Linked DNA regions of Homo sapiens: region 2 is linked to region 1. Evidence: fine-mapped expression QTL. A gene starts in region 1. The other region holds a variant in brackets. All regions are shown on one strand. Distances are between the middles of the regions.

Evidence for each region. PIP is the estimated chance that this variant, and not a neighbour inherited with it, causes the effect.
Region 2: its variant is fine-mapped to the expression of AGPAT4 in whole blood (INTERVAL, PIP 0.96).

Annotation. Positions count from the first base shown.
Region 1 is chr6:161,270,102-161,278,446 of GRCh38, reverse strand. AGPAT4 (1-acylglycerol-3-phosphate O-acyltransferase 4) reads left to right here and starts at 4,386. Exons shown (of 9, transcript NM_020133.3): 1 at 4,386-4,509.
Region 2 is chr6:161,211,899-161,220,243 of GRCh38, reverse strand. The region is part of intron 2 of AGPAT4 (1-acylglycerol-3-phosphate O-acyltransferase 4); the gene reads left to right. Among named protein-coding and RNA genes, the nearest start is that of AGPAT4-IT1, 54 kb to the right of the region's middle. The variant C/T (reference allele first, on the strand shown) is at 4,402.

The DNA.
Region 1 (8,345 bases):
TGTTGGCAAAGGAGGAAATTTTTCTTAGTTCCTCTGCACTTTCCCCAATGATATTAATGTTACACCTCTTTGATCGTACTTGAAATGATTGTAATAATAACGAGAGCCGTAAGAGTTTGTTGGTCATAAAAACATACAACATTTTAAGAACTTTATTGGGTTTTTATTGACATATATAACTATTAAATATAAGATTATAGACCCCAAATATCAAATTAACTTTAGCATTTACAATTTTCCTTTGTCTCCTCTAAGCAGCCACAATTTCCAATGTAGCACATAATGAGGTCATCATAGTTGCAAATCTATATCTTCATATTGTATAACTTGAGAACATTTTTAAACTCAGTGTATAGGTTTGTGTGGATGTTGTATCAATGTTCACAACACGAGGCAAGTGGAAATAAAGCAAAAATACTGTTAATGTGTAATAACATTGTGCTAACAGAATGGGCAATTTGTAACAATGCCATCAGTGACTCCACTATCTAGCACAACAGTTAATACATAGTGTGTAAGTTCACATTTCAGATAAGTGATAGTTATCATTTTAAGTACCAAAACTTAGGTTTAAAGAAGTTTCTGAGATATGCAGAATTCTACCTCTCACTGGGCTTTGAAAATATGTTACTCCTCAGGACTCACCGTGTCGTAAGCATCACTGATTATTGTTTATGTCTGTTCTAAATTGCAGAAACAGTTTCAGAAACCTAGGTTATTTGGTTTTTAGTCCTAATCTTGTTACTGTAAAAGTCACACGTGTTCATCCATTGTAGAAAGTTCTCCAAAGTGCAATCACATATAAAGAAGCAAATAAAAATCATCCTCAATCTCACTCTCCAGAAGTAATGATTATTAACAGTTTCATGATCTTCATCACACTGCATTAAGTTTCCCAGAGCTGCCATCACAAATTAGCACAAACTGTGTGACTTAAAACAACAGAAATTTATTCTCTTACAGTTCACGAGGCCAGGAATCTAAAATTAAGGCATCAGCAGGGTTGGGTCCTTCTGGAGGCTCTCAGAGAGTCTGTTCCATGCGTCTCTCCTGGTTTCTGGTGTTTGCCAGCAATCTTTGATTCATAGACACATCATTCCCATCTCTACCTCCGCCATCACATGGCCTTATTCTATGTGTGTGTCTTTCTGCATCCTCTCCTCTTTTTATAAGGACACCAGGTATTGGGTCTATAGCCCATCCTAATCCAGAATGACTTCGTCTCAGCTGATTAACATCTGCAAAGACTCTGTTTCTAAACAAATTCATATTGTGAGGTTCTGGGTGAACATGAATTTGTGGGGGACACTGGGGGACACTTATTCAACCCACTACACACACTGTAATATATATTTATAGAATCACGAAAACGGGACCATAATTTATATAAAGCTTAGTTCCCTTTACACTTAAGATACCATGAATTTCCCTAGGTCTTTCAAACACAGAATTTTAATTTTTTGTAGAGTGTTTCATCATATGAAGATTACATCATTTCCATAGCTAACCTGCTACTTCAAACACTCAGATGGTTTCCAGACTTTACTATTATAAATGGCTCTGATGAATATACATGTTCCCAAATCTTTGAATTTATCTCTGCTTATGTCCTTGGTATAAATTATTCTGAGTCGAATTATTGGATTAAGGGGTATGAACATTTTAAAGGCTCATGAAAAATCTTCTTTAATTGAATTCCAGAGATTGTATCAATTTGCCATCACCAGCAGAAGAGAGAACCCATGGCATTGCATTCTCTGCACTGCACGTTCTAGCTTTTTGAGTGTTGGACAAGTGACTAGGCAAAGAAATAACATCCTTACTTTGTGACTTGTATTTTTATGTAAGGTTGCCTCTTTGTTTACGGACCACTTATATATCTTTTTTAGGTTACCAATTTATGATTTGTGTCTCCTTTTCAATTTTTTTCTCCTCTCTCCAACTGCCAGTATTTATTTCTTACCATCTCACGGATGAGTATACTGTCCACCTCCACCCCTTTTAGAGTCCACTGTTAGCTAAGAAACTATGTAGATGTATCCTCCCTCTCCTTTTCCCATTCTCGAACCACCTCTGAATCTTGTACAAATGTCAATCATTGCCTCCATTGTGTCTTAACTGTTTACATTTCGCTTTCCCTTCTAAGACTTTGAGCACTTTGGGGCCATTTCCATGTCTTATCTGTGTTTTTGTATCTTCAGCAACTAACATGGATGCTCAATAAACATACATTGAACTGAGTTGTTACGTTGTGACCTGGAAATATTCACAATTCCTTGTATAGATAGAAATAGCTAAATAAGGGCACATAAGGATAGACTCTAAATGGCACTCAATAATGTGCATAGGGCTGGGCGTGGTGACTCCCTGCCTGTAATCACAGCACTTTGGGAGGTGGAGGTGGATCACCTGAGGTCAGGAGTTAGAGACCAGCCTGGGCAACATGGTGAAACTTCGTCTCAACCAAAAACACAAAAAATCAGCTGGGTGTGGTAGTGTATGTCTGTAATCCCAGCTATTTGGGAGGCTGCAGCACGAGAATTGCTTGAACACAGGAGGTGGAGGTTGCAGTGAGCTGAGATCGTATCATTGCACTCCAGCCTGGGCAACAGAGCAAGACTCTGTCTCAAAAAAAAAAGCATAGGATTTAATCCATGAATTTTGAATTTCTATGTTAAATTTTTAGAAATAGTAACTTTTTCTCCCATATTTCTCAGCTATATCTGAGATAACTGGGACTGAGCAACATTGTCTAGACAGGCAAAGTGTTAGCAATAATAAGTATAATAATAATTGTAATGTAATAATGGAATGAGGATGTTAAAGTACTGAGATCAGGATAAAAGTTACAATTGTCCAAATTTTAAATTTCCTATCATTTCCACTGAAATCACTGACTGTACTTATAACATTATCAGGAATTTATGCAATTTGTAGGTTTTGAAATAAATTACCATTCAGAATTCAACCGTGAAAAACAGTGTAACTCTACTTGAAAAACACTTTGAAAAACTCAAGTTTCCACCAAATCTAGAAGCACATGGGTCGTAAAACATAGTTCGAAAAGTTACGAGAGATGATGACTACAAGGAACTTTTTATAAAAATCTTTTATAAGCATTACTCTGTGGTCAAATTTATTTTCACATGGATATTAAAACAAGTTATTGCTACAAATGGGTTTCTGTTCTGATCCTTTTTTTGTTTGCCTCACATATCCTTTCTCTTCCACCACATTCTGCTTCACTCTCCCCGTCTCTCATCACAGACAAGAAAAATGCCACCTCCCATAGGACCCACTCCAAACCCTGTTTCCTGAATGATCAATGCCTTCCCCCATCGCAATCAAAAAAGCACTTTCTATTCTGTCTTCATGACACACTGGTTTTGACACTTGCATAGCTGTTAGTAATTCTGCAATGTGCTTGGGCTATTTGTGAGCACATGTATTTTTCCTTTATAGATTATAAACATCTAAAGAACAAGGTTAACCCAGGAGTCAAGTAAATAGTTAAATATTATTTTGACAATGGCTGTAATAGTGGACATTTGAAAGGAATACACCTCAGTATTTTGAAATTGAAATAATTTTCTAGATCCTGGCATTTCTGGACTTTCAACAGCCCACCCTTTTTAAAAATTGTGAAGACACTTTTACTATAAAGGTCTGCCCAGACCCTCTCTGATACACCTGTGTAAATGCCACGTGCATGTGAGCATGCGACAGTACGTGTGTGCACGCCTGTGCAGTGGTAATCAACCATGGTGCTAAGGTTTGAAAACAGAAAATACATCAATCGACCTCCAAGCTTCTTTCATCCCACTTCATAACATCTCAATCTCTTGAGTGCTGAGGCTTATTTTGTTTAAGATGATTTGGACTCTTCTGAGTGCAACGCAATCTCCTTCCAGCACAGCGGACCGAGGAGAGGTGAGGGGAGAGTTTTGAGGGTGGGCATATTGATCCTACGCTTGCTGAATTAAAAATGAGCCAACTGAGGACAATTTCCAGGTTGCAACACAGACGGAGCCGGAGTCTGGGTTGAGGTTAGAGGAGCCGTTAGGGCGCAGGGATGCAACAGGATTTGGGAGAAAGGGGAGAGAAAGCAAGGCCACTTCCAGGGGGCTTTCATTTTTTTTTTATCCTGGCAGCTTCCCGAGCCAGATTTCAAAAGCGATTTCAAACGTGAAGCCAACTGAAGCACTGCCTTACACTAATTGGAAGGGGAAGGGAGTGACTCATATTACACCAGCTCGCTCTTCCCTCTCGGCAACTGCTAACTTGTAGCTTTAAAAGGAAGTGACATGGGTGGGGAGAGACGTCAGCTGAGGACCACTTTTTTTTTTTTTTTCTTCCTGAAGGGTCCACCCCATGGGTGGAGTCTCGCTTTTTCTTTCCAGTGTTGGCTGACTTACAGCTCTTATAAACTAGTGGCAATTTCTGAACCCAGCCGGCTCCATCTCAGCTTCTGGTTTCTAAGTCCATGTGCCAAAGGCTGCCAGGAAGGAGGTATGTGGTCCTGGTGCCGTTCGCAGGCACCTTCCCCGCTGGGTGTGGCTGATGTTTGCATTCCTCTTCCCAGCATATTTTTCTCTCCTGGGCTGGATTTCCTTAGGACCTCTGGAAGGGGTAGGCTCCGGGGGCGGGGGGGGAGTGCAAGGCGGGCGGGGGAAAGGTGCAGGGGGCGCCTGGAGGGAGGCGAAGAGAGGCTCTGCTGGTACAAAAGGACCCTCGCTTTGTGCTGGGCCGGGTGAGCGTCCCTTTCTGGGCTGTGATTTCAAGCTGCTGTTCCTGGCTTCATTTACCCACCCACCCAGCCCCCTCCCGGGGCTAAAGCATTTTCTCTGCTATAGACGAAGCTGGGCGGGGGGTGGTGGTGGGGGGAATGTTCCTATTACATATTGCTCTCTTTTGTGTCATGCAACATGTTCTTCCGTCGCTGACGTTTCTATGGCAACCACAAAAATACTACACAATATGCAGCCCCGATATACATTGATTTATTTGTATTTTGTGTCTAGTTTGCAGCTTTCTGCTCTGCTTCTTGCTTTGGTTTGCTAAAATCCAGCATGGCTTGTGGCTACCCCTCCTCACTTTCATTTTGGTTTTTCCCTATCACAGGAGGGGTGGGGGAGGGGAGTTGTCAAGGAAACAGGCATTGGTAATTACCTCTCTATTTACCTAATTTTCGGCCTATGAATTTCTCCATATCGAGGAATTAAAAAAAGAATGCTTTGATGTTTATGTAAGTCTTCAGTGTCTGGTCTTTTTTTAGAAAACCTAAACACTTCTTAAGATAAGATATTGATCCTGTGGTCAAGCTAAGGGGGAATTAATTCCTTACAGGAGGTGAGATCATTGAAATAAAGTTTTAGAGAGCATTGGAGAATTCGCACTGATAAATGTGATATTGCCTGCCCAGGTTTGCCTAAAAGCTTAAATATTTAAAAGATGGGTCTTTGCTCTCATCTGCACTTATTTAGCTCCAAATCTTAAGTTCAACAAGTATGAGTAACAAATTAACTGCCGGGCAGGATTCTCCGTTTTTCGTTTTCGTGCATTGTTCTTAGATGGATTAGCCACGCTATTCACTCTCTTCAAGGTGAGGGTTGCTAGACTTTTTCAAAACTGTGGAAGGATTAACTCATCTGTGATTAGTCAACGACTCTCAGTTGGAAAAAAAGTATCTTGAGAGAAGGGAGAATGTGTGTGTTTGTGTGTGTGTGTGTGTGTGTGTGTGTTTAGGGAAATGGGAGGCGGGCAGGGAGAACAGGGCACATCTTGAGTTCTACGTTAAAAGGATTCCATCTTCTGAATATTCTCTATGGGGAGAAAAACTGTTATTCAGAAAAAATATGAAATGAGAAAATTATTATCTACTTAGTAATAAGCAAAGTTAATTATAATTAGAATCAAATAACACATCTCTTAGAAAGACATAGCCTCTTAACAGGTACCGGCTAAACTGATGCTTTTATTCAGTACGTCTAAGGAAGCGTTTGATAAGGGATACCATTCTTCTGATGGGCATCCCAAATAATTAGCTTTTATAAAATAGATAAGTAGTAATCCCATTCATGACTCTTAAAATTATCTATAATTTAAGATAAACATGTGTGAAGGTCACTTAGCCCTCATACCTTCCGGCTGCTAAAGCCAAAATCATTACTTATAAACCTTGAGCAACCCTGCCATGTGGAAGCAGGAAGAATGGGTGGTTTCAGTGAGGTTCTGTTTGCTGTGATCCTTATCTAAATATGCTATCATCTATGTCTTATCAAATCTGCTATAAATCCAGAGGTCCTAAGTAATTCAGGTAGAAAAGTTACCTGAAAATGGGGCAAAATAGCATGGCACAAAACAAACCAGAGCCACATGGAGTTAAAGACGAGAACTATTTAAAGGGCATAACACACAGAAAAGTATTACTAAAAAGAATATGACACTCATTTTGAAAAGCACATGTTAGTACACAGAGAAACGGTTGGATTGTGAGCATCTGATGTTTGCAAAGAATTCTGAAAAGCAGCCAGGCTGAAATTACTGTTTTTCCTGTCTGAAAATGGTCCTCAAGGGCAGATTTGCCACATGACCTTCCAAAGCAGATTGACAGCATGTAAATCAAAGTCTGCGATGTCGGTTCTCTTGAGTTTCCAGATTCAAAATTTCACAGCAAAAAGCCTAATGGAATAGAACTGAAAGGAAAAAGAGCAAGACTTCCTCAGAAGCACAGCCAAAACAAAAACAACAAAAAACCCAAACCCAATAAACAAACAAAACACTGTCTGATATTCAGATGCTGAGTAGAGGTTAAAGCAGTTAGCAGCTTTGGCCTAGGGAAGGTAAGTGGAGCTGTGAGTATAAAGTAAACGTAGGGTCCCATGGAAGAGGCTGACAGAGGTGACACCCAGAGGGTGAGTCAGCCGTCATTTTATTGGGATTTTACTGTCTGCAAGGCTCTGCTGTGAAGTTGGTGAAGAAGGCAGCAGTTGTAGTCTGTGCTCTCAAGCTTAAAATCCACCAAACGGGTGGCGAAAAGAAGAGCAGAGCACCCAGCTGGAAGGAAGGGGGAGGCAACAGCCAGTCAAGGAGACGCAATTAGTATGAGAAGAATACTAGAGAGTCTTCATCCTGCTGCTGAAGCTTTATAGGAGAGGAGGCAGACGGTTCAAGGGAAGAAGGAGAGGGTGTCTTAGATAGCAAAGGTGGATGGTAAGAAATGGATCATGGTTCAGGGTTCTTAACTCCAAGAAGGGAGAAGTCAGTCTTTAGTATAGAAGTAGAGCAGGTATACTCTGTGCTGGTTGAAAGCATAAGTAGATGTAAATTGGGGACAGAAGTTTTTCTTAATCAGAAAAAGAAGGACTGTTAGAAGACTGAACAGAAGGCAGAATCCTTCCTAATCCAATACTTTTTTAGCTTCAGCTTAACAACGAAAGGCCAGACTTACACTAGACTTTAAACAGGTATGAAACTGGGGAAGACGCAACCAGGAACTTACCCGGAATGTCATCTTCATAATTCCTGCCATTGCCATTGTTTTAAATTATTGGATGCTCAAATGAGGGTTTGGTAAATGTCACACGTTTTGTGCAGTCTCCTTTATTCTGGAAAGGAGGTCTGATGGTTATGGGACAAAGCCGCATTCACATTTATTTTTTTTTTGAGATGAAGTCTTGCTCTGTCGCCCAGGCTGGAGTGCAATGGCGTGATCTCGGCTCACCACAACCTCCCCCTCCTGGATTCAAGCGATTCTCCTGCCTCAGCCTCCCGAGTAGCTGGGATCACAAGCATGTGGCACCACGCCCAGCTAATTTATTTTTTATTTTTTTGTATTTTTAGTAGAGATAGAATTTCACTGTATTGGCCAGGCTGGTCTCGAACTCCTGACCTCAGGTGATGCACCTGCCTTGGCCTCCCAGAATGCTGGGATTACAGGCGTGAGCCACCGTGCCTGGCCCACATTCACATTTCTGAATGGTGTTTGACCTCTAAATCTTTGGTGAAACGCCTTTCATCACTCCTATTTTGAAATATAATCATAATAATCATGTAACATTTCCTAGAGCTTGGGCAACTCAAATTCATTATTCTTTGTGTGAGAATCAGTTTGGAAAGGAAGCGCTGGAACTCTGAAACCTGGCTTCATGCATGGGCTTGGGAAGGTCTGCAGTGGCTGCCAGGCTGTAGGAAAGAGGAAGCTTAAAGCATGAACTCTTTCTTCAACAGCTGTTTATTACGTGTTTAATAGGTGTCAGGTCCCACAGATGCAACTGTGAGCAAAACAAGATACAGTTTAAATAGTTATAGTTTTCAAATGGGTTTACAAGGGAAACCCCATGACT
Region 2 (8,345 bases), 58 kb after region 1:
GGAGGTATTAGGAATGAGGTCTGATGATGACATTAGTGTGTTATTAGCTCAGGTCATCTGGTGATAGCGCAGGCTGTGTGGCTGACATACCTGGTGATTGGAAGCACATTAAATATCCAAATGAATCAGTCTCATGAAGCTGATTCAATGGAGAGTGATAAGCAAGGACACTGGAGTTCTAAGTTTTTTAACAGGAATAATGTAACTGTGATAGCAAGCCTTGTGTATTTTGAGTAATAATCCATTTATTTTTTAAATGTATCTATCTGCCTGCCTGTCTGTCTGTCTGTCTGTCTGCCTGCCTGCCTGCCTGCCTGCCTGCCTGCCGCCTGCCTGCCTGCCTGCCTGCCTGCCTGCCTGCCTGCCTGCCTATCTATCTATCTATCTATCTATCTATCTATCTATCTATCTATCTATCTCTGTCTATCTTTTTTACTGTGAATCTGTGTCCCTGGTACAAGAAATGACCTTACGTTTTAAATAGGGAATTTAGTCACTCTAAATTTCAAACAGGTGGCCCTAAAGAATCAGCAAGTTTAGGAATACACATGTGATACTGAATTGTATGAATGGATGCTTGGCTTAAGTCAAGTTGTCTTAGCTATTCATATGGTTTATAAATAAATTAATTCGCAAAGTGCCCATTTGTTTTTGGAAGCATTAAATTTCACTTCTGACTTAAGTTACGGCTTTTAAATTAGGTTGTGAGTTTGACTTTGGTGTCTTGTAAGGTTATAAGGCGATCGTGTGTGGTCTTCATGGTGCAGTGGATATTTCCAGGAGGTAAACAAGACAAGCCATTGGGGTATAGAAAAAACAAACCTGAGAGCTTCTATTTATGTTCCTTTTATCTCATCTCGTATCATGCCATCATATTCTATCATATCATAAATGTCTGGATAGGACATTTTATATATTTTTTAAATTATATAAAATACAAATTTTACATATATAAAAGTTGTATATGCTAATGGTGCATATTTAATTTTTTTTTTAAGGAATCAAAAACATTGAAAGACCACTGCCTTAGCTATGGGTTTTGGTTTCACCATACTGGAGATAGAATTTATATAGCACACTTAAAGTAAGGGGGAAATAGTTTTATGAAAACAAGCTCTAAAGCAAGGAAATCCTAATGGCAAAAAATATTTTTGTATTTTTCTCTATTTCAGTTTATCTTGGGCCCAGATGGGATCTGAGGCATTGTCAAACATTTTGAGAACTCCCTTCTCTGGTCCTATTCTGGTTCTCCTGAAAGGAGGGAAAATATTAGATTAAAAGTATTCTCCAATTCCACAGTCTGTTTTGAAGGAAAAATCCTAGAAACGCTTTGGTAGATACAGTGTTTTATCATACTGTTTGGTAGATACAGTGTTTTATCATACTGTTTGGTAGATACAGTGTTTTATCATACTGTTTGGTAGATACAGTGTTTTATCATACTGTTTGGTAGATAACAGTGTTTTTTCACCTCTGCCACCTCAGAGTATATGGTTACATGATATGGAAAGTGTTGAGGACAGCAGTTATTTTCTAGCATCCTTATGGCTCCCTTTATAGCTTCCAAGTGGCTGTTTTTGAGTAGATTTGATGTGGATACACTGTGCTAGGGCCGTGGAGCGGAGGATCCTGCCCCGGTGTTATGGTAACACGCACTTGGAGCCTGGAGTCTTGGCTTCTGAACAGTGGCCTAACCACCTTGGTGACACAGTCAACTTACCTGGGTTTGGTTTTTTAATTGTAAGATGAGGGAAATAAATTGTAAGGTGCTAGACAAACGTAAAGTAAAGGTATTCTTGCTGTGATTTCCCCACTTAGTCAGACCATCATGCCAGCAGAGGGAGTCGTGCATGTTTTAAAAGGGAGCTCTGGTAATTTGGTAATCTCTTCCCAACTTCTTCTTCATTGATTTCATATAGATAGCTTGGCACTGACATTTGTGGGAATATTTGCACCATAGAAATCGGCAGAACTATAAATCAGGGCTTTTTTTCCTCCCACCTACTGCCTCCCCTGCCACACAAGAGCTGGTTGTTAACCATTTTCCAGCACAGCACCATTGGCACCGTCACTGTGGACGGGGGTAGAGAGCTACAGTCATCTTGTGCAGGTTGTATGTCCACCCCAGGGCATGTGGTTCTCTTGCCAGAAGAACAAGGCACCAACTCATCAGACACAGACACCAGCCATCACAGGGCATTCCCGGTGAATGCATACGTGTTCAATTGGTCTTTGCAGGCATCACATAGAACATGCTCTACGCTACAAGGTGAGTTGGGAGATGAGGAAGAGACCTTGTCCTTCAACCCAGTCACAGTCTAGTGATGGTGAGTTCTGCATGTTATCCAAACAAGAACAAACCCAGAGCTGGTGTGTGCAGGGCCCCGCGGGAGCAGAGGCACCAGCTGTGCTGCCTGTGAGTCCTGTCCCAGGGCAGTGGCCTGGGCAGGCGGGGTCAGGGGAGGAGGTTTCTGGCTGGACTCCCTGATCCAATTCCAGGGCTTTGAGGATTTCTGAATATGCCATGCCTCTCCCAGCCAGTCCTTTCACCAGGGTAATTATGATGTTCATAAATGAGATTGTTCATGTACAATTTCTACACCAGTAGCCAATTTCTTTAAATGGAAAGGAACAGATTATATATACCTATGTCTCCAACTAGAGCTGAACATGATTAGTGAGAGAAAATGCAGGCATAACGCCAATGCCTTCATACTGGATTACCATGCACCTGATGGACTCCCCCAGGGACACACAGGGAGAAGCATGTCTTTTGGGCTTGGATATCGCCTGCAACGTTGTGACAGGCTGTTAACACAGGTCTCCACCACAGCCTCTCCCAATGCGTCCTCCATCTGACACACCATAAGGCTTTTTAAAGCACGCTCAAACAGTGAGATGCCCTTTCATTCAACTTGGTAGACATCTATTGAGCACCTTCTGTTACCATGTACCAGGCATTGATGGGAGCCCAGTTCTGACCCAAGGCTAGGTTTTCCAGCTCAGCATGTCCCTGGCTCCCAAGCGGATGACCGAGTTCTCCGGTGTTCCCCTGTCCTTTCGCGTCCCCACGCCTGTGCTCACTCCGCCCCTCCCCTGGCTTGCCTTCTCCACTGTCTGCTCATCTTTCATTGCTGAAACGCGGAGTCAGGCCCTAATGATAAAACACCTAAACGGAAATTGACAAGGACAGGAAAGCCTGAAGGTGAAGAACACGTGTAACATGAGAACCGCATCAGCAGGTGAGCAAAGGTGAATCAGAGCCACGTGTGAGGGGAAAGTCAAATTAAGACAGAAGCAGGGATTACTGGGTGATAGGTTTGGCTGTGTCCCCACCGAAATCTCAACTTGAATTGTATCTCCCAGAATTCCCACGTATTGTGGGAGGGACCTAAGAGGAGGTAGTTGAATCATGAGGGCCAGTTTTTCTCGTGCTAGTCTCGTGATAGTAAGTCTCACGAGATCTGATGGGTTTATCAGGGGTCTCCGCTTTTGCTTCTTTCTCATTTTCTCTTGCTGTCGCTGCTTAAGAAGAGCCTTTCGCCTCCCACCATGATTGTGAGAACTCCTCAGCCATGTGGAACTGTAAGTCCAATTAAACCTTTTAAACCTTTTTTGGTTTCGTTTCGGGCATGTCTTCAGCAGCAGTGTGAAAACGGACACTGGGGAAAATCATCTGAATTAAGAGAGTGCTGGGGTGGGGCCTGGGGCGTCGGGGCTGATGCTGCCCCAGCATTTTGGTTTCCACAGTGGAGCCCAGGGAGGAAGTTGGGAAAGAATGAGGAAAGAACGATTGCCCGGAAGCGTTTCACTGTCCTGAGGAGAGTGAGCCTGAAGATTGTAGAAGGCAGTTGCAGAGGTTGTCTGTCATCCTGGACAAGAGACGCACTTGTTGCAGACGTTTGCTTGAGGACAGAAGAGACTGGGGCTGCTGTTGCCTATTCTGTTTCATGGCTTTACTCTGAGAGCCCTGAAAGCATTGACCCTTTGCTTCAGTCATCCATTGAGTTATTCCCACCCAACCCCAACGTGGGTTCAGAACCCTTTCAGAGACATCTCCAACTTGTATTTGTGTCTAAGAGTGTTAGTCTCCTTTGTCAGACTATGAAGAAGCCTTGTCAAGGCAGGAGGGAAAAGTGCTCTTGGCAGCCTCACAAATCTGGCTTTAGCTGAAAGGTATTTTTTGTTTGTTTTCTTTAATCCTCGTCAACTGGACATGGTGCGGTTAAGAGAGGCAAGTATGTGTGAGCCTGGACAGCTTTCCAGCTCTAGGGGCAGAGGAGGTTTGATAGCCCTTCATGGCAGGGTGCATGCGAAGAGTTTTGCTTGCCGGCATAGATAAACTTGACTATGTCTGCTCTACTCAATTTGATGTATAGTTTGAAAGGTAATGCTGTATTA[C/T]GAATAAAATAATGGGTATATCTACCTAAAAAGGAGAAATTACAATGGGTTGGTGGCTGGTAGGACTTTTAGAGTTTGAGCTATCAACAGGAAACTTGGATCTTGTGTTTTTGTGTTTTCTTTTTTTTTTTTTTTATGGTAAGGGAGGTTATTCTACTGTGTGGTTCAAGCAGATATACCCCTCAGCCACTGCAAGGATATCAGTGTTTCAAGCATGTGCTAGGCTTCAGAATATAAAGACTAGAATGTTTTAGGTTCAAAAAGAGCTTGTTATACATTTAAAATATGGGTTTTGCCTGTAATGTGTGCCAGAGAGACAGACCTGAGAACCACACTCATGCTGAAGGACCAGGATATCTGAACCTGATTACCGAGCATGAGATCAGGGTGAGTCACTGTCAGTCTGTGTTTGCTGGGTATATGCGTATGTTTTGTAAATCCAAGAGTATGGGAAATGGCAGAGAAGGAATGAGCCATGGCCTCAAAAACCTTGAGATTCAGCACAAATATGTCCGCTGGGATGTGTAAACATTTTCAACCCACAGATACGGGGAAGCTTAATTCTACAGAAACATTTGCTAACTAGGCAACAGATTACAACACATGCAGTGTATGAGTTATGGAAGAGTAGGATCATAAGTTAAATAGGGTCATTAATGTAGCTTGCCAAATTGTGAAGACTCTTGTAATAGTATTAAAATTGTACTCAAGCCTATAGAAATGTGAAGCATCTAGACAGTCTCTATGGGGTATTTAAATAAGTATTTAAAATGTCACATAAAAAACATAGCTTGTAGTCCTACCAAAGAAAAAATTGTTAGTATGAAGCTGGATATGGTCTGATTTTTTGAAACTGCAGATGGGCCTGTTGCCTTTGTCTCAGTCTTATCTAAGGCAGGCCAGCAGAACAGGTTTGGAGGTCAACGTAGATAGTTTTGAAATATAGTCACGTGCCCCATAATGACTTTTCAGGCAGTAGACCACATTTACAACGGTGTCTGCTAAGATTGTAATACAGTATTTTTGCTGTGCCTTTTCTATGTTTATTTTATTATTTATTTATTTATTTATTTTGAGACGGAGTCTTCCTCTGTCACCCAGGCTAGAGTGCAGTGGCACGATCTCGGCTCACTGCAACCTTTGCCTCCTGGGTTCAAGTGATTCTCCTGCCTCAGCCTCCCGAGTAGCTGGGACTACAGGTGTGTGCCACCATGCCCAGCTAATTTTTTTGTATCTTTTAGTAGAGACGGGGTTTCACCATGTTGGCTAGGCTGGTCTCGAACTCCTGACTTCAATTGATCCGCCTGCCTTGACCTCCCAAAGGGCTGGGATTACAGGCATGAGCCACCATGCCCAGCCCTATGTTTAGATACACAAATAGTTACCATTGTGTTACAGTGACCTACAGTATTCAGTACAGTCACATGCTGTACAGGTGAGCAGCCTAGGAGCAACAGGCTTCTGAAACCCCCAAAATTTGAGACAGGCCTCAGTAAATTTAGAAAGTTTATTTTGTCAAGGTTGAGGATGTGTGCCTGTGACACAGCCTCAGGAGGTCCTGACAACATGTGCCCAGGTGGTCAAAGCACAGCTTGGTTTTATACATTTTAGAGAGACACGAGACATCAATCAACAGATGTAACATGAACATTGGTTTGGTCTGGAAAGGCAGGACAACTCGAAGGAGAGGGGCTTCCAGGTCACAGGTAGGTGAGAGACAAATGGTAGCATTCTTTTGAGTTTCTGATGAGCCTCTCCAAAGGAGGCAGTAAGATATGCATTTATCTCAGTGAGCAGAGGGATGCCTTTGAATAGAATGGGTGGCACGTTTGCCCTAAACAGTTCCCAGCTTGAATTTTCCCTTTAAGTGATTTTGGGGGCCTAAGATATTTTCCTTTCACATTCCCCAACACCCCCACCCCCACTTTAAAAAATTTTTTTGGAGAAAGCATTTTAGAAGAAGATGAGTCTCTGTTCCCAGGTTTTGTCTGATCTCTCATGACTAGGATGGCTTATTCCTAGACAGGTAGGATCTAAGTTATTAGGAAAACTCATTTTTATAAGGTTATTCTATGAAGAGAAAATAGAGGAAGGAAGACAAACAACAACAAGCAAAAGAACAATCCTGGAAAAATCAATATAGGCCACATTACTCTGAAGCCCATACATCAGTAGGCAGGTATGAAAGTGGCTTATGTATGTAAATAGATTGTTGTCATTTTCTTTTGAAGTTTAAGTTGTCTGGCTTCAGTTCACAGGGCTTTACAAAAGCACAGCTTAGTTTTCAGTGACTCCAAATTAGGAAAAATTGGGAAAAAAAGGAAGGAACAAAAAATTGAAAACATTATTTTGAAGACTTGTAGCCCAGAAAACTTAGAATTCAGTCCAAACTGTAGAAAATAATAAAAATTGAAAAATGTAAGATAAAACTAGAATCTAACAACAGGTGTACTATAGTTTTGAAGCATAATTATTCTCTCTTCAGTTTCCCATTTTTACTAAAGACAAATCATGGTAGGACTGGTTTGCTTTATTATACTTGGCCTAATTATTTGTATACAGTGCAGCAAGAATAATTATTTTTACAAAGGCTTTTAAATTGGCTTTGATGGAACTGTGTTCCATAGGAGGAATCTCAGATAAGACTTTTTTAAAGCCGAGCCCAGCCATGGATTTGTGCCATCAAATACCTATGAGTTGGGTGATCAGCTCCTCTTGAGGTTCCAAGATAAACTTGAGGCTCCTGGACCTGCCAGAAAGTGACATTGTTTACCTACCACAGGTCAGGAACCCTGTGCAGGGGCTGTGTAGACAAAGGTATGAGGCCAGTTTTTTCCAAGGGGTTTTTATTGGCTTCATAAGTCAAGTTTGATTCCTTAAAGGAAAGCACACCATTACAGTCAAAGTCTTGGTAAAATAAACAGTTTCTCTGATTGTGGCCTGTTACAGTGAAAATTGATTCTTACTGCACTTATGCAAATAACTGTATTGTTATAAGTTAGTTATCAGAAACCTGCATTTAAGAACACCTGTTAGAGTTCTATAGCTGATTATAAAACCACCTTCTAAGGAGGACCAAAACAAGACAATTGTCCATGGATGACAAAATGTATTAGGGTAGCCATAGTGAAAGACACAATTGACAAGGAAATTTGTTACCTTGTGGCACACTAACAATTTAACATAAAAATTATAATTATCACTGAAAATGTACATTAAGTCATATTAGAATTACAGGAGTTTACCCTGATTTTGGAACACATACCAATAACATATTTATACAAATACAACCTAAAGGAAACCAAACACCATTTCGTATTTGACAATGTTTCCTGTATAATTTTTATACCAGATAAGCCAAATTATGTCACTTTTGGACTTTAGGGAATCTAATGTCTTAAAGGATTAATTAGGTAAGAAAAAGACATAATTTATAATTTGATTTTGGCAAGTTTGTCAAATAACAAAGGTTTAATACTATTGATATCATAAAATAGGGTCATTCATTTAACTAAAGTGATAACTCAAGGATTTCAAAAAAGGCAAACATCTTCATTCTTTGAGAGAGGAGACTTAATGTTCCAAACAATAAGCCCTAATAAAAATAGCACAAAGTCATTTAAATTTGTTTTTCAAAATTTTGTAAACAATCTATAAAATTTTAATCTTGACCATAAGATACAGCTTCCATAAGCCTTTTATAACCTTTATAACATTTACTGAGGAGTCAGTTAATGCTTCAAGAAAACTTTGTTAATTTGACACAGGGGCCCATATGCTAGTCTTGCATCAGTGTGCCCTTCAACATTAATGATTAATTTATAGAGAAACTGAACTTATTTTATCTTTCAAAATCGACCTTTACAATCTCATGCACCCACCTCTTCCACAATACTCTCTGGGCCTTGAGTTGAAATGGCTTTAATTTCTGGCCCTGTGTCTCA